Linked DNA regions of Homo sapiens. The protein of the gene in region 3 interacts with the protein of the main gene of each other region in a pairwise test. Each region holds a gene or a part of one and is shown on either strand. Other genes may lie near its edges.

Region 1 (7,026 bases), on a different chromosome or scaffold from region 3:
CTTCGAAGTCCTGAGAGAACCTTGAGAAAACCGCCCGGGGGCTCTACCAGCACAGGCGCACAACCCTCTCCTCGGCACACTACTTTGTTCTTAAAACTGCACTGACTCGGCCGGGCGCAGTGGCTCACGCCTGTAATCCCAGCACTTTGGGAGGCCAAAGCGGGCGGATCACGAGGTCAGGAGATCGAGACCATCCTGGCTAACACGGTGAAACCCCATCTCTACTAAAAGCACAAAAAATTCGCTGGGCGTGGTGGCAAGGGCCTGTAGTCCCAGCTACCCGGGAGGCTGAGGCAGGAGAATTGTGTGAACCCAGGAGGCAGAGCTTGCAGTGAGCCGAGATCACACCACTACACTCCAGACTGGGCAACAGTGCAAGATTCTGTCTTAAAAAAAAAAAAAACAAAACAAAACTGCACTGACTCTTCATGGGAAACCCAGAGGGAGAAAGCATTAGACACCCAGAGTCTCAGCCTCAAGACACCTAAGACTCCAATCCTGGATGAGCCACTAGCCCAGCCCGTTAAGCACAAGGCCTAGAGCACCTTCGCAGGCAGGGAGAGCCAGCAGCGAAGTCCAGTCTGGGGACCTCCTCAAGGACCACTTCCATTTCTCTACACTGCCCAATAAGCTTAAAAGATATTTGACGCCGGGCACAGTGGCTCATTCCTATAATCCCAGCACTTTGTGAAGCCAAGGTGGGAAGACTGTTTGAGCCCAGGAGTTCAAGACCAGCCTGGGCAACATAGCAAGACACTGATTCTACAAAAAAATACAAAAATTAGCCAGGCGTGGTGGTGCACGCCTGTAGCTACTCAGGAGGCTGAGGCAGGAAGACCGCTTGAGCCCAGGAGGTCAAGGCTACAACAAGCTGTGATTAAGTCACTGCACTCCAGCCCGGCAGACGGAGAAAGACCTGTCTCAAAAACAAAAACAAAAAGCTATTTGAGGCGGGGCACGGTGGCTCACACCTGTAATCCCAGCACTTTGGGAGGCTGAGGTGGGCAGATCACTTGAGGTCAAGAGATCGAGACCAGCCTGGCCAACATGGTGAAACCCTATCTCTACTAAAAATACAAAATTTAGCTGGGTGCAGTGGTGGGCGCCTATGATCCCAGCTACTTGGGAGGCTGAGGCAGGAAAATGGCCTGAACCTCGGAGGTTGAGGTTGCAGTGAGCCAAAATTGCACTACTGCACTCCAGCCTGGCTGACGGTGAGATTGGCTCAAAAAAAAAAAAGCTATTTGAAATTCCACCAAACATTAACAAACCAGGTTCTCATTTGTCACTTTCAATAAAATGAATTAATGTTAACACTGACCCATATGGGCCCAGAGTTCTCCAGCTTGGCTAACAGTTTAGGGGAGGGTTACCAAGTTCCTTCCAATGATGCTCCACCAGCGGCTCTGTTGGACTCGCCTTGGAGCACCCAGTGGTTTGAGGAACACTTGGATCTTGCCTGCAGGCAGATGCCCACAGACCCTGCAGGCCGCTTACCAAGATGCTTAACCCATAACCCGACACACAAAAGCAGTTATCTAGATCAAGTTTTTATAATGCAAGTTGTAGGACACTAGAGTTTTAAAAACACCAACCAGGTCAGGAGTCCGCACACTTTATGAAAACCCAAGTATTACGGTATTTAAGAAGAAAAACTGTGCGCGCACACACACACAGCCAGCTTCCAGTTTAGCCAGCTAAGGACCTAAAGCTTCATTAGCAATTATCCCTGCAACTTTAGCAATTCAGTATTCATTTTATACCTAAAAGTCTGTAATCCGAGCTATTGTCTGTAATCCCAGCTACCTGGAAGGCTAAGGCAGGACAATCACTCGAACCCAGGAGGTGGAGGTTGCAGTGAGCCGAGATTGCGCCACTGCACTCCAGCCTGGGCAACAGAGCAAAACTCCATTTAAAAAAAAAAAAAAGACCTAAAACACAGAATTTCAGTAACTAATTCAGAATTCAGTAACTGGAAATAAATGACATCCACTTCTTTTCTCACAAAAGAGAGGGACTGATACTTTTCCAAAGTTCTACAAGCCCCAAGTTGTTCAGGACTTGCATAATGTAAGACTGCAGACAGTGCAGGCGGCTCTACTCTATACATCCCTATATATGCCATGTACACGCCTTTCTGCCCAAAATACATTAGGACACTTGGTGCTCACAGGTGAATAATTCCTTTAACATAGAGAACTGAAAAAAACACTGAAAACCCATCTATTATCAACTGACATTTCAGGAAGGGATATTTTTTAAAAAGCAGGAGAGAATCTCAGGATGAACTCTCTCGAATAAAGGAAGCATTATGAAGTATGTCAGCATCATCATTTTCCCATTGCTGGTGCCAGTTTACGGGCATCTGAGCCCTTCTGAAGAGCAAACACACTCAATCCCGTCAGACATCACATGACAGCACAGACTCAGGAGTTTGGCTACAAGTATCCCAGGAAATCAGGACTGTCTCAAAAAGGCCCAGTCAATGAATTTTTGATATAGGATCCATATTTGTCATTATAAAATGTCTGGATTCCAAACCTACCCCACCACCACCATTTTCTTTACGACCTAGATGGAGTGAGTTTGTTTCCAAAAACTGCAGGATACTGGGTTTTTAAAAGAAAAATAAAGCAACGACCTCCAGATCAAAGACCAGAGATTCCCAACTACTGAGGGACAGTGCCCTGGGAAGCAAGGGCCCTTGGCCAGGTGGGGTCTCGATGCCCTACGTGCCCACCGCAGTGCTTCGTGAATATCACCTAAGTGTTCCTCATGGACGGAGGCTGGGAAGCACTGTTCCAGAAAGTATCACAATTCAAAAAGGAGAGGAGAAAGTTACCCTCAAATTCTTTGTAACAGAAAAACAGAATGTGTACACTGTGGTCCCAATTATTCAATTATAATTGGAAAGTGATCAAAGTCGTTCGGTGACATCTACCCAAATACCATCACTGGTTACTAGCAGTACTCTCCGCAGGGAAAGCCCACGAGGCTGCCAGGACCTGGGCCCGCCCACCTGCGGCCAACTGGGAGCTGCCTGTCACGAGACTCAGCTCGGCGGACCTGCCGCATCTGCTCACCACCGGGCCACCTGGTCTAAGTACGGCACCAAGGACACATCTGCATGGCAGTTGCCTGCAACACCCAGCCTCACCTTGCGCACCACCTCCTCCTCCTCCTGGCGCTTCTCGTAGTGAGCAAAGTCGTCGAAGATGGAGGTTGTGTGCTTGTAGGAACTGATAATTTTCAGCACTTGCTTGGCTTTTTCTAAGGGCACCTCCTGGGTGTCCCGGGAGTTTGTGACCGGTTTGTTGTCGTTATTCTCCAGCCTGATGTGCCGGAGCTGGTTATTGGGTACATCCTTAACAAAAATCCACTGGACATCAAACTTCCCCTTCCACTTGTCCTGAGACCAGACCCCGGCACTGGTGCCGTAGTCCACGGGGGACTTCATCTCGGCCACCCCACAAAAATGCCCACTCCCATTGACGCTGAAGAGCAGGTAGACGGGCCCCTTGCTGCTCATGCAGCGGAAGGCGCTGTCCAGGCGCTTGTTGCCGTGCTCTGTGCTACACCAGATGGAGTACTTAATGGAGCGGTGGATGTCGTCCTCAGAGTAGCTCTTGATGATGAACACACGCCCGCTTTTCAGATTCCACTCAAACTCTTTCGGGTTGTAGCTGTGAGCAGCCTTCAGTTTTTCAAGGACGGGGTGGGATTCGACGCTGGGGGCAGAATTAGGCTGGACGTTTCCAGGAGAGTTGCTATCGCTGCCAGCCCCTCCGCTCTGCCCAAACGCCGCGTTTCTGTTGCGTGGGGCAACCCAGCGGGTCTGGGGTGGCTGCTGAGGGCTCTGATACTGCGGTTGAGCCAAAGCTGGGGGCTGTGCTGGGAGAGGCTGAGCCACCTGCTGGGGCTGTGGGGCAGCCTGTGGAGAGGGTGCCTGCTGGGGGACTGGGGCCTTCGGCACAGGCCCCTTGTTATCCCAGGTGCCAATGTCCATGTTATGCTTTATGGGTGGAGGGGGCAGCCCACCCCCCATGACAGGCCCGCTCTTTGTTTTCATTTTAGGCTGTGGTTTTGCAGGCTTGCTGGCAATGGCAGCCCACGAGGTCGGCTTTGAAACTGGCATGTTCACATTTGTCCCACCGTTGCCAGAAAGGACACCAGTCAGTGCCACGCTGCTGACGACAGAGCCCACCGTCTTGACGGCGGAGGAGCTGACGTCCCCAATCTTCAGGCCAACCATGCCCTGCTCCAGGCTGTTCATCCCGGGGGCCTTGCTGAGGGTGTCGCTGTGAAAGCCTGGCTGCCCATCAACCACCGTGCCACCCAGGGAGCTCGGGGGGTAGGTGTAGCTGCTCCCATACGCGGAGCTCTGGGTCTGCTGACCTTGAGACCCACTTGTCCCCCATGCTGAGAACGCAGGGTTTTCAGGGAAAAAATTGAACCTGTGCTGATAGATGTTGTTCCCCAGGCCCCCAGGCTGCCCAAAAACAGCATCGTGCATAAAATGATGGTCTCCGTTACTGAGCTGTCCGTAGGTGGTGAGGTATGGAATCGGAGGGTCCCCTGCAGTAGACCACGGAGCCTCATTGAGGGAGTAAGGAAATCCAATGGACGGCGGGTAATAGCTGGACAGGTAGGGGTCGCTCATTGAGGGGTAACTGTTACTCTGCAAAAGCAAACGTGACAAGTTACACCACTTCTACAACACGAGATGCTGAGAATGCCAACCGCCTCTTGCTTAAGCACAGGTGGAGCAAAAACAAAACCTGCACAGCATGGGGCTACTCCTTCCAGAAAGAAAGCTGTAGTCGCCAATGTGAGAACCAAATCAAGACAGAGAAATTAATAACGAACACAAACCAGGGTGCCGTCTCAAAATACGAAGCATCATTGGCAAGGCTCTGAATTCAGGCTAAATGACGAAGCTATGCCTCTCTAGAACTGGCAAGGTAGCAGCCCCCTCTACTCTTACCTGCAAAGGAATCCAGAGGTAGAGGAGTAAACCCCTGCCTGCTGACGACAACGCTTATGACAGACACGGACGGCATCATGGGAACTGAAACAGCTTTGTAAGGCAGAGATATTTCCATTGGCAAACCAGGATGTGCAGGGCCGTGAGGCAGTTTGCTCCAGAGAACAGACCCCAAGCTCGCTGATTACTCAGCAGGCCCTGGGCGCCCACCTCTGGGCCTTGACATTCCTCCTGGGACACTCTCCCATACCTGGACCAAAGCTCTCCCAGAATCCTTCAAGGGTGCTTCAGAGGCTCCTTCCACACACCCTTCCTAGCAGATGGCCCCTGCCTCTAAGTCCAAGGGGGTTCACATTCCCATGATTTCCTGGGCACAGCGTTGGGCTCTTGCAGTAGGCCCCTGCACAGAGGGCCCTGGCTGGCTCCAGCTCCTCAGCCAAGAGAAAGCATCCGAAGTGTGGACTCTGTGCTCCGGGTGCAGAGCAGCCCTCACTCTGGATGCCAACTCACCTGGGCTTCCTTATGAAAACATGTCTGTGTAGTGACTGGAACCTCAGAGAGTGGTTTTAAAGTGACGGAACCATGAGGCAAAAAGGTCTGCTAGAGAAGGTGAGTGCCTGAGTGCCCCATCGTAGGGGTCTCTGAAGAGCTGCCCAGGGCACAAATTTAGACTGAGGGTCAGCAGTTCTGGGACGGCATCTCCTTGGAGAGACTCAACTAAGGGTCTGGTCATGATTGGGTCCCTCCAACACTGCCTTAAAATGACTTTCGTGTGAGGTGTGTCTGTATGTGTGTGCGCACACACACCTGTACACAGGCCGGTGAGACGGGGTCCAGTGTGAGGTAAGAAGGCTCCCACCTAGACGCATCGTCTGAGAGTGCCAAGATGCTATTACAGAAAACAGAGCCGGAAGTAAAACACGGGGCTCTCCAGTCTGTGACGCCCGTTTTTGGATTTTTAGTTTTCCCGCTCCCCGCCCCCCAGTCCCCCAAGTAACCAGAAGGTTCTACATAAAGAGAATATGCTCCAGACCTCATCTCACAACCTCATCCCTGCCACATTGACCTTTCATGTTGGCATCAAAGGCTACACTATGAAGGATAACAGCACCCAGTCGGGGACACCAGGTGGGAAAGTAGCTGAGGCAATGAGGGAGACTGTGGGATCCCAGACAATGAAACAGGCCTGCTTCACTGGAGGGGTGACCACAAGCAGCTCTCCCTGGGGGCAGTGCCCCAACACCAGCCAACACTGGTGGACTAATGAACCAATGACCCGGCCACCACTTCCTGCCTCCTGCTCCCATCCTAGAATACTGAGGGCTTCAGAAATCCAATTTATTTTCTAATTTTCTTCCTGTTGACTTCTCCACTTGTGAGCAGACAATTCCAGAACCCCCCCCTTTTTTTTTTGGGACGAAGTCTCACTTTGTCGCCCAGGCTGCAGTGCAGTGGCACGATCTCAGCTCACTGCAACCTCCGCCTCCCAGGTTCAAGCGATTCTCATGCCTCAGCCTCCCAAGTAGCTGGGATTACAGACACCCACCACCACACCCGGTTAATTTTTGTATTTTTAGTAGAGACAGGATTTCATCATCTTTGCCAGGCTGGTCTCGAACTCCCAACCTCAGGTGATCCACCCGCCTCGGCCTCCCAAAGTGCTGGAATTACAGGCATGAGCCACAGCGCCTGGCCCCAGAATCATCTTTTAAAATGCACTAACTGCTGTTTCCCCGTAATATAAATTTGAGATTCTGGGGGTATAAGAAGACAAGTGGGATGCTATCAGTGTTCCACAAACATGAGATTAATCTGAGCTTATTCTCCCTCAAAACAGTTTCCATGATGCTGGCTCCTTTGCTGCAGCCTTTCCCTCGGGTGCTGCCCTGGCCAACAGGCCCAGACTGGGGGGGTGAGCGAATCAGGGGGGCGGTCTGTGCACAGGACTTGCTCCTCGAGTCACTGGCCGCAGGTGCCTTCAAGGACGGCAGGCAAGGGGACAGTCCCCCCCACAGGGAAGCCAGCCCTCCTCCTCCCATTAG
Region 2 (7,026 bases), on a different chromosome or scaffold from region 3:
GTGACTACCATGTCATTTATGATTCTAGTCAAAAACTGAGCTGTATCACATACCATTGATTGTTCAGAGACTTGAGTTTATCTATGAGGGTTACTTTCAGAAATTTAGCTAAAGTCAAGTCTACCAGTAAGAATTGATGGCATACCTGAGATGGTTTATCAAAACTATTGTTTACGAATTGTTTGTGTTCCTGTTAAATAGATTTTATGTATATATTCTTAATTCTCACAACAGCTGTATGAGAGGTAAGTGGTATTATTTCCAGTTGAAGAAATTGAGATTCAGTGAGGTTAGGTACTTGTCTAAGTGTGAACTGTGGGTGACAAACCTACATTCAAAGTCAGGACTGTGTGATTTCAACACTGACATTATATGCACCCAGAGACCGGTCTTCAGCCTGTGTGTCTGTGACTAGTTCCATGTTCCCAACCTGGAGCTGAACTGTATGTCCCCTTGTCTGTTAGTCCTGTAGTCTTAGAATAGACAAAGGTGTCGTAATGTTAGCTTCACAAAGAAAGTCCTGGCTTGTTGAAGTCTAGCCCAAGTTTCCTAGTCTTGGGTTTTGCGGTCTCAACGTCCCCATGGTCAGGGGACATGGGGACCCTTGCTCAGACCTTGAGGGTGTGCCCTCCTTTGGCCCTTTGGATGTCCTTTGCCACACCCTTGTTTGAGGGCAAGCTTTCCCTTTTCCACCACAACTTGAAGTAAGTGCTCTGTCAACATAGTGATCAGTGACTCTTTTGACAATTTTGTCCTCCCCATCACGCCTAGCATGGTGATGTACACAAAATAGATGTACTTTAAATAAGTCACATAGACTTTTCCAGTGTTCTGGTCCATGGGTGTTTCAGAAGTGTGTATTCAGACGATTTACTCTGTATATAACCCCATCCCCATATGTATGGGTTAATTTTCCTTCTTTCCTGAAAGTAGAAGTATCAATGCCAGTAAAACGAGGTGAGATACATTATATTCACGGGGTTGTAGAGCAGCAGAGATACACATGTGATGTGGTCACAGGTAGGCAAAGCCAGCCTTGGGACTTATTTTCCTGCCATTGCCACATGTACTGTTGGGACCCAGTCCTGGCCTCTGGAGGACAGCCTGACTTGGGAGTCTGCAGCCAGGGCTTTGATGGCAGGTGAGATACTTGGGCAGAACTCCCTGACCCAGTGGTTCCACCTGTCTCTGTGTTTCTGTGGCTCTATTTAGTAGGGCTTTTTGTTTGTTTGAGACAGAGTCTTGCTTTGTCGCCCAGGCTGGAGTGCAATGGCATGATCTCAACTTACTGCAACCTCTGCCTCCTGGCTTCAAGCAATTTTCCTGCTTCAGCCTCCTGAGTAGCTGGGATTACAGGTGTGCGCCACCATGCCAGGCTAATTTTTATATCTTTAGTAGAGATGGGATTTCACCATGTTGGCCTTGCTGGTCTTGAACTTCTGACCTCCTGGTCCACCCCCCCCACCCCCCCCCCCGCCCCCCGCCCTCGGCCTCCCAAAGTGCTAGGATTACAGGCATGAGCCACTGTGCCTGGCTTTTTTTTTTTTTTCTTTTTAAGACAGGGTCTTGCTCTGTTGCCTAGGCTGGAGTGCAGTGGCGTGATAACTGCTCACTACAGCCTTGATCTTCCAGGTTCAGGTGGTCCTCCTGACTCAGACTCCCAAGTAGCTGGGACTGCTGGCTTGTGTTAGCATGTCTGGCTATTTTTCTCTTTGTAGAGACGGGATCTTGCTTTGTAGTCCAGGCTGGTCTCAAACTCCTGGGCTCAGGTGATCCTTCCACTTCAGCCTCCCAAAGTGCTGGAATTACAGATATGAGCCATTGCGCCCAGCCTATTTGGTAGTTTCTGCACAGCTCAGGTAGTCAAGTGGATGCTTGGGTATCACTTAGTGGTCAGTTAGGCAAGTGCAGTGGACACCCCTCCTGGTGAGGAGAGTGCCTGATACTACTGGCAGGAAAGCCGAATGGCGCATATCTGGTTGACACCAGTTGCAGGCACGGCAACATAAAGGGAAGTACACGAAATGGGATTGTGTGTGTTGGCCAAGAATGGGATGAGATGTACAGGAACAGAAGGTGTAGTGGGCAGTGAATGGATGTGAGGAAGGTAAAGAGATGACCGGAGCTACAACTGGCCTTTAAGTCCACTGCAGGGGTTTTCCCTTCATGCAGTCAAGGAAATTACTGTTTTATATACCAAGTTAAAGGAAATTACTGTTTTATATACCACGTTAAATACCTGGTCCAAGATCACAAATGAAAGGTTGAATTTGCTCAAGCTGACAGAAGTACGTGAGGTAGTAGGATGTGCACAGCATGGGAGGCCAGGCAGGGCCTGGTCTATATCCTGCTGTGCTCATTTATCCAGTGTATGCATCAGGAAGGGGGGAGCCTTCCACACTGTGGGCTTCTGTGGGAAATGGTAGGAAAGAGTATCTGTGAAAACTCTTAAGGACAAAGAAAAAAAACGTGTTTTTTCTTTTTTTTTTTTGGAGACGGAGTGTTGCTCTGTCCCCCAGGTTGGAGGGCAGTGGTGCGATCTTGGCTCACTGCAACCTCCACCTCCTGCGTTCAAGCGATTCTCCTGCCTCAGCCTCCCTAGTAGCTGGGATTACAGGTACGAGCCACCACGCCCAGCTAATTTTTTGTATTTTTAGAGATGGGATTTCACCATCGTGGCCAGGCTGGTCTCGAACTCCTGGCCTCAAGTGATCCATCTGCCTCGGCCTCCCAAAGTGCTGGGATTACACGCGTGAACCACCGTGCCTGGCCAAAATGTGTTTTTTCAAAAGAGAAAGATATTATTTTTATTTGCGTATAGAGACTTCACAGTCCAGCATTTTCTGATCAATCTGGCAATTTAGACAATATTTGGAAATTTAGAAAGTTGAAAAGTTTGAGAGGTTTAAAGTTTAGTACTGTATGAGGAATTAAATGTTAGATATGTTTCATTTGCTGAAAAGCAAGCTTTTTAATAGAAACCCTAACCGGAAAGTGTTGGAACTTCTAAGTTGGTTGGCAGCATTCTCTGTTGACAGTGTGTGCTGCATGCAGCCTGTTAAAGCACCAGTTGGCGGGCCCTGTGCTCTGCTTTCCCTTTCATTGTGAGGGACTGCTTTGGGTAATTCTATACAGGTGTAATTAAGGGGCCAGGGGAAGAGTTCTTTTTGTTTCTGCTGTGAATTAGAGGACTATGTCCTTGCTCTTTTGGCGCAAAGCCAACCTTTCAGATTTCTAAATTTTGAAGGCTGAGCATGGTGGCATGTGCCTGTAGTCGCAGCTAAACGGGAGGCTGAAATGGGAGGATTGCTTGAGCCCAGGAGTTCAAGGCTGCAGTGACCTATGATCATGTTTGTGAATAGCCACTGCATTCCAACTTGGGCGAAATAGTAAGACTGTCTCTAAAAAAAAAAAAACAACCGTACTATTTTTTTTTTCCAGGTACTATTTTGAAGCGCTGGAAGAAGAACTGGTTTGATCTGTGGTCGGATGGTCACCTGATCTATTATGATGACCAGACTCGGCAGAATATCGAGGATAAGGTCCACATGCCAATGGACTGCATCAACATCCGCACGGGGCAGGAATGTCGGGGTAAGCTGGCCTGTCTTGGCCAACTTCTGTCTTCTGCTCTTCCTCTGTCTTGCTGGGAGCTTGGTCCTCTTCCTTCCCTGTTCTGCTTTCATTAACAGATTGAAGAAGGGCTCCATCTCAGAGGGGCGACCACAGTGGGGCCCCAGGCACTTAGATTATGAACCACATGGTCGGGAAATATCAGTGTTCTCAGTCCACGTCCCTCGTTCTCGTGGAGAGGGAGCCAGAGCTCTGGGAACCTCAGGAAGCACAGGCCACCCTAGACTACGTTGATTTTGTACTCAGAAACTGGCTTCTGTTTGATGGTGACTCCAGTCAATTGCTTAAAATCTGGGATGTTGGCCAGGCATGGTGGCTCATGCCTGTAATCCCAGCACTTTGGGAGGCCGAGGTGGGTGGATCACGAGGGCAGGAGTTCAAGACCACCCTGGCCAAGATGGTGAAACCCCAACTCTACTAAAAATACAAAAAAATTAGCCAGGTGTGGTGGCAGGTGCCTGTAATCTGGCTACTCAGGAGGCTGAGGTAGAGAATTGCTTGAACCCGGGAGTCAGAGGTTGCAGTGAGCCGAATATATTTTGTGGACGTCATCTTGGCAGCTGGTCTTGTCAGTCAGCCTAGCTATGTTCTTTCTGCATTCTTGGAAAGGCAGAGGGTTCTTTCATAGATGTAGCACTTGATTTATTGTCTAGTCCTTTGCTTCTCTGAGCTGGTAGTTCTTAGAAAATGTAAGAAGAAATCCTGAAAAAAGTTCCTTTATTCTGCTTATTTTTCATAGATACTCAGCCCCCGGATGGAAAGTCAAAAGACTGCATGCTCCAGATTGTTTGTCGAGATGGGAAAACAATTAGTCTTTGTGCAGAAAGCACAGATGATTGCTTGTAAGTTTTGCTTTCTTATGTGTTTAATTTAAAAAGTATTTTCTATTTTAACTTCTGATTACCAAAAAATGAAAAGAAAGGGCGTGGAGTTTTCTTTCAGGCATCAGAATAAGGGACTCAGTGGATGTATGAGAGAAATGCAAGAGTCGCTTTTCCAATTCTAGTTTCTGCCTCTCTCAGACTGCCTAGGCCGATCCCATTGTGGTGAAAATGGCAGAAAGGAATAGCAGTCTCATCATGCTGTCTTTCATTATTAGATTCACAGTGGGTAACGGGCATAGTTGAAATAAAATGACCAGAAAAGCAAGAAAGTAAAGAGTAAGGAAACTGTCAGTTCCTAGGGCTGCTGTCACAAATTGCTGAACACTGAGTGACGGAAATGGCAGAAATTCATTGTCTCATAGTTCTGGAGGCTGGAAGTCTGGAATCAGTGTGTCAGCAGATCCTTGCTCCCTCTGAGATGCTGGGTAGGATCCTTTCTTGCCTCTTCCTAGCTTCTGGTGGTTGCTGGTAGTCCTTGGTGTTCTTTGGCTGACAGCCACATCACTCCGGTCTCTGCCTCTGTTGTCACATGGCCTTCTTCGGCTGTGTCTGTGTCCAGAATTCTCTTTTCTTATAAAGGACACCAATCATAATGGATTAAGGACCCACCTTAATTCACTATGACCTTATCTTAATTTGATTCCATATGCAAATATCCTATTTCCACATAAGGTCCCATTTGAGGGTACTGGGGATTAGGATTTATACATATCTTTTTCATGAGGACACAATTGAACCCATAATAGAGACTTTTGAGAAAGATGGTGAAATGGATTAGAGATCATCTTCCCTGAGGGGAAAACATTTCAATGGTGCAACCAAATAAAGAAGTTTGATCTCAAGCACAAACTACAAACAGTTAAAGAAAGAAATAGATGATTCTACTGAGATGTTCTTCAATCCTACCCGAATCCCAGAAGCAGTGACAAGATGAGTTAATTAAATCTTGCAAATTTTCAGTATTACCCTGTAATCTGGAGTGATGCTGATTAAGTGTAAGTTACTTTTTGGAAAAGCTAGGGAAAAAATCCTTAAGAATGTGATGTCCTTGGGGCCTCAGCAGAGGCTGGACGGTTCTCCCAGGACTCATCATTGCAGGGCAGTGAAAGGCACTGAAGCTCACAGGAGTTGGGTAATTTTCTGTCTGGTGAAGTGAGCCCTAGCATGGGACATTCAAAGGAATATGCTCAGAAGAGAGTGTAGGACCCAGAGTTTTCAGAAAAGACTTACTCGGTCTCAGAAGAAATGTCCTTCTCTTCTAGCCCTGTGCCCTCAGATTACAGAATGTTGATTGTGAGGGTAACACCTAGCCATCAAACTGTTGCTGGGCTGGACTGAGGTAGAACAGGGTGGAACTACCAGTTGATACCAGATTAGGTAGGAAGCGTGTCAAGGAGAAATAACTCATACTTTATGAGAGCAAACAGCAGTTTTAGATATCACTTCCCATGTTAAACGTGAGCAGGATGTAAAGAAGTGGCTTGGCAACTATGCAGATATACCATGAAGGAAAAATAAGAAAAGGAAAATGCAAGCCTCAGGAAAAGCTCCTAGAGTGGAGGAAAATAAAACCCAAGAAACAGGAGCAGAGTCTTCAGGAATGCTTTCCTGGCCACCATATTTAAAATTGTATCTCCCTGTCCCCATACACACTCACCATCTATCAACTATTTATCTTGTTCATCATCTGCTTTCATTAGAATATATGCTGTGTGAGGGCAGAGATTTATGTTTCTTTTCTGCTCTTTTGTGTCTGTAACTTAGAAGGTCTGTTGCTGTCAAGAGGGTGCCATTCACGTTATAATCTGAAGAAAGTGGTCTTCCCTTCAATACAACCCCAAATGAAAAGTGAATCATTGGCATGGAAGAAAAGACTGGAGATACTCTCAGTGACAGGAAAAAGATGAAAAGATCAGAGATATGTTAGACTAAAAAAAGTTCAGAAAGATTATTGATGTCCATAAAGTGTACAACCCAAAAGAGAGAATTACAAATCTAAGGCAAGAAAAATGTTCTGAAATAATCGAACTGAATTGGCAGACCAAAGTCCCTACTAGACTCTTCCACCTGATATGACAACAAAATCTATATAAGATATATGAATAATCCAGTATGATACCCTTTAGCAAAGTGAATGACAATGGTATGCCACATACAAAATCAGTTGGGGAATTTTGCAACTTAACTGCATTCCTTAGAAAGCTAGAACACTTGGGCTGGGTGTGGTGGCTCAAGCTTGTAATCCCAGCACTTTGGGAGGTCAAGGCGGATGGATCACCTGAGGTCAGGAGTTCGAGACCAGCCTGGCCAACATGGTGAAACCTCGTCTCTACTAAAAATACAAAAATTAGCCAGGCGTGGTGGCAGGCACCTGTAATCCCAGCTACTTGGGAGGCTGAGGCAGGAGAATGGCGTGAACCTGGGAGGTGGAGGTTGCGGTGAGCCAAGATCACACCACTGTACTCCAGCCTGGACAACAGAGTGAGACTCCATCTCAAAAAAAAAAAAA
Region 3 (6,839 bases):
AAAGCAGCCTGCGGAACGGTAAGCTAAGTAACTGAACCCAGACTCTACAAACCAGGCAAGAAAATAGGCCTTTGAGCGAAATAAAAAAGGGTGATTCTTCAGGAGAGACGAATTATAAAAGGCAACACTTGCCCACTTCCCCACCCCCAAATGGTAAAAGGTCCTTTTCCTGAGGGGCCAGGCCTGGGCAGTCCCATTTAAGTTGCAGAAGGGGTCAATTTGCAGGACGTACCTTTCATTCAGGGTAGCAAAGATGTTTAAAGTCGTTCTTCACTCAAAGCCTCCAGGGGTAAATCCCTTCTACACAGCAGATGGGAGAAAATTGGGCCTGGTGCCCTCAGTGTAACTCTCTCCTCTGATCCCACCACTCAAGGAAGAGGTCTCCGCCCCTTCCTTCCCGGTTATTACTGAACCACCTAGTTCACCTCTTCTTGATCTTAAGTCCCTTCCAAACTCAGAACAGGCCTTCCCAGACCTCATAAAGAATCCTCACCCCCTCGTTTTTCCTTACCAACAAGTGCTTCCAAGCACTGGAGCATCCATAACTACTTTACTGTGTATTCTCTGTCTTCTCCCTAGGATGTGAGTTCTAGGAGTGCAAGATGGATGACTTTTGGGTCACCTTTGTGTTTTCAGGCCCTAGCACAGCACATGGCACATAGAAGAATACGTATTTATTGGAAGCATTGAAAAATCAGTCAAACTTAAGAAGCAAGACAACCTCATTTGTAATTTTTTTAGAGACAGAGTCTCATTCTGTTACCCAGGCTGGAGTGCTGTGCAATGATCATAGCTCATTGTAGCGTTGACCTCCTGGGCTCAAGCCTCGGCCCCCAGAGTAGCTAGGACACAGGCCACCATGCCCGGTTCATTTTTAAATTTTTTCTAGAGATGGGGATCTTGCCGTGTTGCCCAGTCTGGTCTGGCACTCCTGGCCTCACGCAAACCTCCCACCTCAGCTTTCTACGAAGCTAGGACTACAGGTGCATGCCATGCCTGGCTAATTTTTAATTTTCTTTTTTAAGAAATGGGGATCTTGCTATGTTGCCCAGGCTGATCTGGAGCTCCTGGACTCAAGCAATCCTCCTGCCTCAGCCTCTCAAAGTGTTAGGATTACAGGTGTGAGCCACTGCGCCTGGCCGTAGAGAACCTCCTTTTTGACATAAAAGTAATCATGAACATGTGAGCAATATTTCATTTGGATGCCAATGTAGAGTTAAGCATCCCTAACCCCACCCGGTCTCGTCTCACTCAACATCTGCAGCTTGTCCACGCCTCTCCACAGCAGCAGAAATGAGCCAAAGCAGGAAAGGCTGACTCATTGTAGGTGCCAGAGGCTGGGAAAATCTATAGAGCCAGAGGGGAAGTAGACACGTTGGTTCTGGGGAAGGGTGGCCTGTCACTTTGGGGAAAGAAATGGAAGGTCAGAGGGACTTCTGGAAGGCAGAGGGGAGCAGGTGGGATGGTTTCCTATGCCTGGACCATCAGTTTCTGGGAGGGAAGAGGCAGGAAGTAGTGATGGATGCCCTGGACTGAAGACTGGGAGGGCCAGGAAGGAGCCTTAAAATTTGCACTTCCAGAGAGAAAGTCGGCTGGTGGGATTGACCTCGGACTGACAACTAACAGGCAGCATGCGGTGGAGTTTCAGGAAGCCAGAGGTCTGGGGTGCCAGCAGCAACAAACCCAGGCTGGCTGATGGAAGGGCCCAGCCTAGACAGGGAAGCAGAGGGGCTGCATGGAAAGGCTCAGGGCTGGAGGTGATGTGAAGTGGAATAAGCTTCAGTGGGAGCCAGGAGGTTGTATTTCCCGTTGGGGGCGGTGGTGGAGGGATGGGGGTGCCCAGAGAGGAACTATGGATTAGGCCCAGGCCGGCCACTCAGAGTGCTTGGCATCCAGGATGTGTTAAGATGGCATTGAGGCCGAGCGCGGTGGCTTAGGCCTGTAATCCCAGTACTTTGGGAGGCCAAGGCAGGCGGATCACCTTTGGTCAGGAGTTTGAGACAAGCCTGGCCAACATGGTGAAACCTCGTTTCTACTAAAAATACCAAAAACAATTAGCTGAGCATGGTGGCGCGCGTCTGTAATCCCAGCTTCTGGGGAGGCCGAGGCAGGAGAATTGCTTCAACCCGGGAGGCGGAGGTTGCAGTGAGCCGAGATCGCGCCACTGCACTCCAGCCTGGGCGACAGAGTGAGACACCATCTCAAAAAAAAAATAGCATTGAGATCAATAAGGAAGTCTAGAAACCAGGAAGCTTTTTGCAAAGAGAAAACGCCTTTTGTTATTCTCACCGATGGATATTAAGCTTTCCCTCACAGACAGGACTACAAGCTTCAGAGTGGATCTGAGATGAATGCGAATTGCTGTGTACCTTTGTAAGGGACAGAAGACCGGATTTTCAAATTTAAAACAACCATTCTGTTTCTGGAATCAGAAATCAGTTTCGAGATTTACAACTGTATTTTTTAAAAAATCTGTCTTCTTAGTGGACTCGGGGGGGACTTCACGTGGCACCCAGTACACGCCACGCCAAGCCACCGAAGCCAGAGGTGTGTGTCTGGGGCCAGAGACGTGCATTCCCTCAGCAAGGCCGGCCTCAGACGCAAACGCCAGCACCGCCACCCTGTCGCCCGCTGAGAGGATCTGGCCGCCGGGGGGAGGGGGCGGGGGGGGGGGCAGCGGGGGAACAACAAAAAAATCCCAGCATAATGATTATTCCCAGGGACCGTTGGGTTTTTTTTTCCCCAAGGCGGCCGAAAAAACAAGTGCTCCCCTTCCCCGGAAATGAGATGCACAGGGGTATTCATTCCATTCCGCGGCTGGGAAGCCCCTGCGGAAACGAGTCTGGCTGCATGTGCGGCCTCGGTCCCAGAAATCAAAAAGAGCGTCCCCTGAGCCCACAGCTTGCTCCTCCATGTGACCGGCCCCTGGGCTGGTGGCCACTGTGGACGCGCCCGGCGCCCCCTCTCCCGGCTCCCTGCGGGTTCCGCGGAGCCGCCGGCGCGCAGCCCGGCCAGGTGCACCCGGCACGGCCCCACTAACAGCGCGCGCCTCCAGCCGCCGGGCACTGGCGGCCACGCGGGCGAGATTTACGGTGGCGCTAGGCGGCGGCTTCCGAGGCCGGCCGGCGCCCAGGCTCCGATTACAGGTTCACACTGGGGGCCCGGCCGGCGGCCGCCCAGCCCCCGCCGGCGCGCCCTCGCGCGGCCCGGCTCCCCGCCTGCCCATTCTTCTCCATTCATGCGGACGCCCAGCGCCGCCGCCGCCGCCGCCAGCGCGGCCGCCGCCGTCGCCGTCGCCGGCCGCCCGGATTGGCTGGCGGCCGCGGCGCCGGCACTTTCCCACGGCCCGCGGCGCGTGCGGCTCACCGGAGGCGCTGCAGGCTCGGCCCTGGCGCGCGGCCAGGCCAATCGGGGCGCGCGGGGCGGGGAGGAGCCGCGGCCGCCGGCGGGCTTGTGTCCCGGCCCGGCCTCCCGCGCCTCCCCGCCGCCCGCGCCTCCTCCTTCCCCTGAGTGCAGGCTGGACAGAGCCCCCGCGGAGCCGACGCACCGCCGCCGGGCAGGGGCGGGCGCGGAGGGCGGGGGCGCGGTCCGCTAGAGCCCTCGGCCTCGCTCCCGCCCCTCCCCGGAGCGGCTGCCAATCAGCGGCGCGAGAAACCGGATTGGCCGGGGGGCGGCTGTTGCCCTGGAGTTGCCGCCCCGCCTCTCCGCCCCCTCGCCCGCCTTCCCCACTCCCCCGCCCTCCCCAGGGCCCTGGGAAGGGGCTCAGCGTGGGAAAGGATGGTTGAGTTTTAACCAGAGGCAAAGCGTGAGCGGGATCAGTGTGTGCGGAACGCAAGCAGCCGAGAGCGGAGAGGCGCCGCTGTAGTTAACTCCTCCCTGCCCGCCGCGCCGACCCTCCCCAGGAACCCCCAGGGAGCCAGCATGAAGCGAGCTCACCCCGAGTACAGCTCCTCGGACAGCGAGCTGGACGAGACCATCGAGGTGGAGAAGGAGAGTGCGGACGAGAATGGGTGAGCTGGCGGCGGCGGAGCGGAGCCGAGCCAGAGCGGGAGGCGAGCGCAGGCCTGCCGCGGTGACAGCGGGCTAGGACCCTTGGCGCGCCGGTGCCCTGCGCTGACCTCCGCGCGTCGCAGGCTGGCGGCAGCCTGCGGCCAGGGAACCCCTAGGTGCCTTCCAGCCCAAGTGGCAAAAAAAGTCTGAGTGCGGGGAGGGTGTGGGGGCGACCTCTCAGATCACCTCTCCTCGTTTAACGGCGATTTCAGTTTTTGTTTGTTCTTTTTCTCTTTTCAGAAACTTGAGTTCGGCTCTAGGTTCCATGTCCCCAACTACATCTTCCCAGATTTTGGCCAGAAAAAGACGGAGAGGAGTGAGTCTCTTTACACTCTCCTTTTATTTTTGTTATTGATTAACGGAAATAACCACCTTTTTTTTTGTCTTTGAAATTTACAGTCGTAATGGTAATGCCTTCCTTTGTTTTGCTTGCCTTCTGCAGATAATTGAGAAGCGCCGACGAGACCGGATCAATAACAGTTTGTCTGAGCTGAGAAGGCTGGTACCCAGTGCTTTTGAGAAGCAGGTAATGGAGCAAGTAGGTAAAGCTCTCAGCATAGCTATCTGCACCTTCTGAATCTTCCCCTCATTAATCTCATCCGCCTTGGAAAATAGCTGTGTTGCTTGTGCCTAGATGAATTCGTACACAGATACCAGCGTATTTTGTGAAGACAACTGATTTTGCTTTAGTCCATGCTTTACGATTTACAAAGCATGTATCTTTGTATATATGTTTGCATATTTTAAATTGTTCCCCAAAGGAACTTGTGCCAAATCAATCTTTTGCCATTCTCATCTTTAGGGATCTGCTAAGCTAGAAAAAGCCGAGATCCTGCAGATGACCGTGGATCACCTGAAAATGCTGCATACGGCAGGAGGGAAAGGTACATCTCCTAGACCTAGTGGGGGCTCTGAATGGTTGGCAAAGAGTGAGCAGCGGCTGAAGGCCAGGATTGGTGCAGTAGCTGCCTGATTTTTCTTTGGGGGTGGGGAGAGAACGGTGTGTGGTGTGTGCAGTTCCCTGTCAGTACATTTTCGAATGCACATAGAATCTTCTCCAGTGAATTCACCACCCCAGCTCTCTGCGGATTGAGCTAGTGCATCTTTTGGAAAAATACCTATTATTTGTGAGGTCTTCAAAAGTTGTGACAGCCCTGATTCAGATCAGGTAGCTTTCACATTTGTCCATTGCTATTTTGAGAAAAAGCATTTAAAAACAATATGTGGTCTTATTTTTGGTATACGGGATTTTAAAAAAAAGGTGCTGCCACATGCCTCTTGAGGAAAGAAATGTATTCTGGTTAAGTAAAGGAAACCTAACGGGAGACCAAGGTCTGTGTGTATGTCTCTCCAGCAGGAAAATGCTTTACTGAGGTCCAAGTGCCTAAAAGCTCCGCGATGATAACTTACATCTGTGTGTCTAATGAATTTCACTGCTCTGTGGTTTCTCTGCCCTTGATGTATTTTTTGTTGTTGTTGAGGGAAAACATTAAAGGAATGAACATAGTTTCATCTGCTGGTAGGGTATAATTCCAATTTCTGCTCTGCAGCTTCTAATTGGGCTTTGAACTTGCATTAGCAAACACATTCTGCTTATGTTGATTAATGCAAAGATTTTTGTTGATTCCAAAGACTTTCGGAAGAACCCCTGACTGTTGTGTTTTAAGGGATGCAGGTATCTGCCAGGAAGGGCTGTCTCTGGGACTTAAGAAATGAGGGAAACGGGCAAAGCCCTGAGATTTTTCTTTTGTTCTTTTGCTTAGGTTACTTTGACGCGCACGCCCTTGCTATGGACTATCGGAGTTTGGGATTTCGGGAATGCCTGGCAGAAGTTGCGCGTTATCTGAGCATCATTGAAGGACTAGATGCCTCTGACCCGCTTCGAGTTCGACTGGTTTCGCATCTCAACAACTACGCTTCCCAGCGGGAAGCCGCGAGCGGCGCCCACGCGGGCCTCGGACACATTCCCTGGGGGACCGTCTTCGGACATCACCCGCACATCGCGCACCCGCTGTTGCTGCCCCAGAACGGCCACGGGAACGCGGGCACCACGGCCTCACCCACGGAACCGCACCACCAGGGCAGGCTGGGCTCGGCACATCCGGAGGCGCCTGCTTTGCGAGCGCCCCCTAGCGGCAGCCTCGGACCGGTGCTCCCTGTGGTCACCTCCGCCTCCAAACTGTCGCCGCCTCTGCTCTCCTCAGTGGCCTCCCTGTCGGCCTTCCCCTTCTCTTTCGGCTCCTTCCACTTACTGTCTCCCAATGCACTGAGCCCTTCAGCACCCACGCAGGCTGCAAACCTTGGCAAGCCCTATAGACCTTGGGGGACGGAGATCGGAGCTTTTTAAAGAACTGATGTAGAATGAGGGAGGGGAAAGTTTAAAATCCCAGCTGGGCTGGACTGTTGCCAACATCACCTTAAAGTCGTCAGTAAAAGTAAAAAGGAAAAAGGTACACTTTCAGATAATTTTTTTTTTAAAGACTAAAGGTTTGTTGGTTTACTTTTATCTTTTTTAATGTTTTTTTCATCATGTCATGTATTAGCAGTTTTTAAAAACTAGTTGTTAAATTTTGTTCAAGACATTAAATTGAAATAGTGAGTATAAGCCAACACTTTGTGATAGGTTTGTACTGTGCCTAATTTACTTTGTAAACCAGAATGATTCCGTTTTTGCCTCAAAATTTGGGGAATCTTAACATTTAGTATTTTTGGTCTGTTTTTCTCCTTGTATAGTTATGGTCTGTTTTTAGAATTAATTTTCCAAACCACTATGCTTAATGTTAACATGA

What was found. The genes of interacting proteins can lie anywhere in the genome.
Region 1: the proteins of HEY1 (region 3) and YTHDF1 interact in binary tests that used the Homo sapiens proteins (3 or more experiments, as listed by UniProt).
Region 2: the proteins of HEY1 (region 3) and PLEKHB2 interact in binary tests that used the Homo sapiens proteins (3 or more experiments, as listed by UniProt).

The regions. Positions count from the first base shown.
Region 1 is NC_000020.11:63,199,130-63,206,155, forward strand, and holds part of YTHDF1 (YTH domain-containing family protein 1), read right to left. Parts: intron 4,679-7,026; coding exon 3,158-4,678; intron 1-3,157.
Region 2 is NC_000002.12:131,122,312-131,129,337, forward strand, and holds part of PLEKHB2 (pleckstrin homology domain-containing family B member 2), read left to right. Parts: intron 1-1,258; exon of another isoform or gene 1,259-1,356; intron 1,357-3,441; coding exon 3,442-3,594; intron 3,595-4,372; coding exon 4,373-4,475; intron 4,476-7,026. UniProt on the Homo sapiens protein: Involved in retrograde transport of recycling endosomes.
Region 3 is NC_000008.11:79,764,746-79,771,584, reverse strand, and holds the start of HEY1 (hairy/enhancer-of-split related with YRPW motif protein 1), read left to right. Parts: upstream 1-3,817; 5' UTR 3,818-3,921; coding exon 3,922-4,010; intron 4,011-4,290; coding exon 4,291-4,366; intron 4,367-4,492; coding exon 4,493-4,576; coding exon of another isoform or gene 4,577-4,588; intron 4,589-4,852; coding exon 4,853-4,934; intron 4,935-5,109; exon of another isoform or gene 5,110-5,321; coding exon of another isoform or gene 5,322-5,382; intron 5,383-5,813; coding exon 5,814-6,397; 3' UTR 6,398-6,839. UniProt on the Homo sapiens protein: Transcriptional repressor which binds preferentially to the canonical E box sequence 5'-CACGTG-3'. Downstream effector of Notch signaling required for cardiovascular development.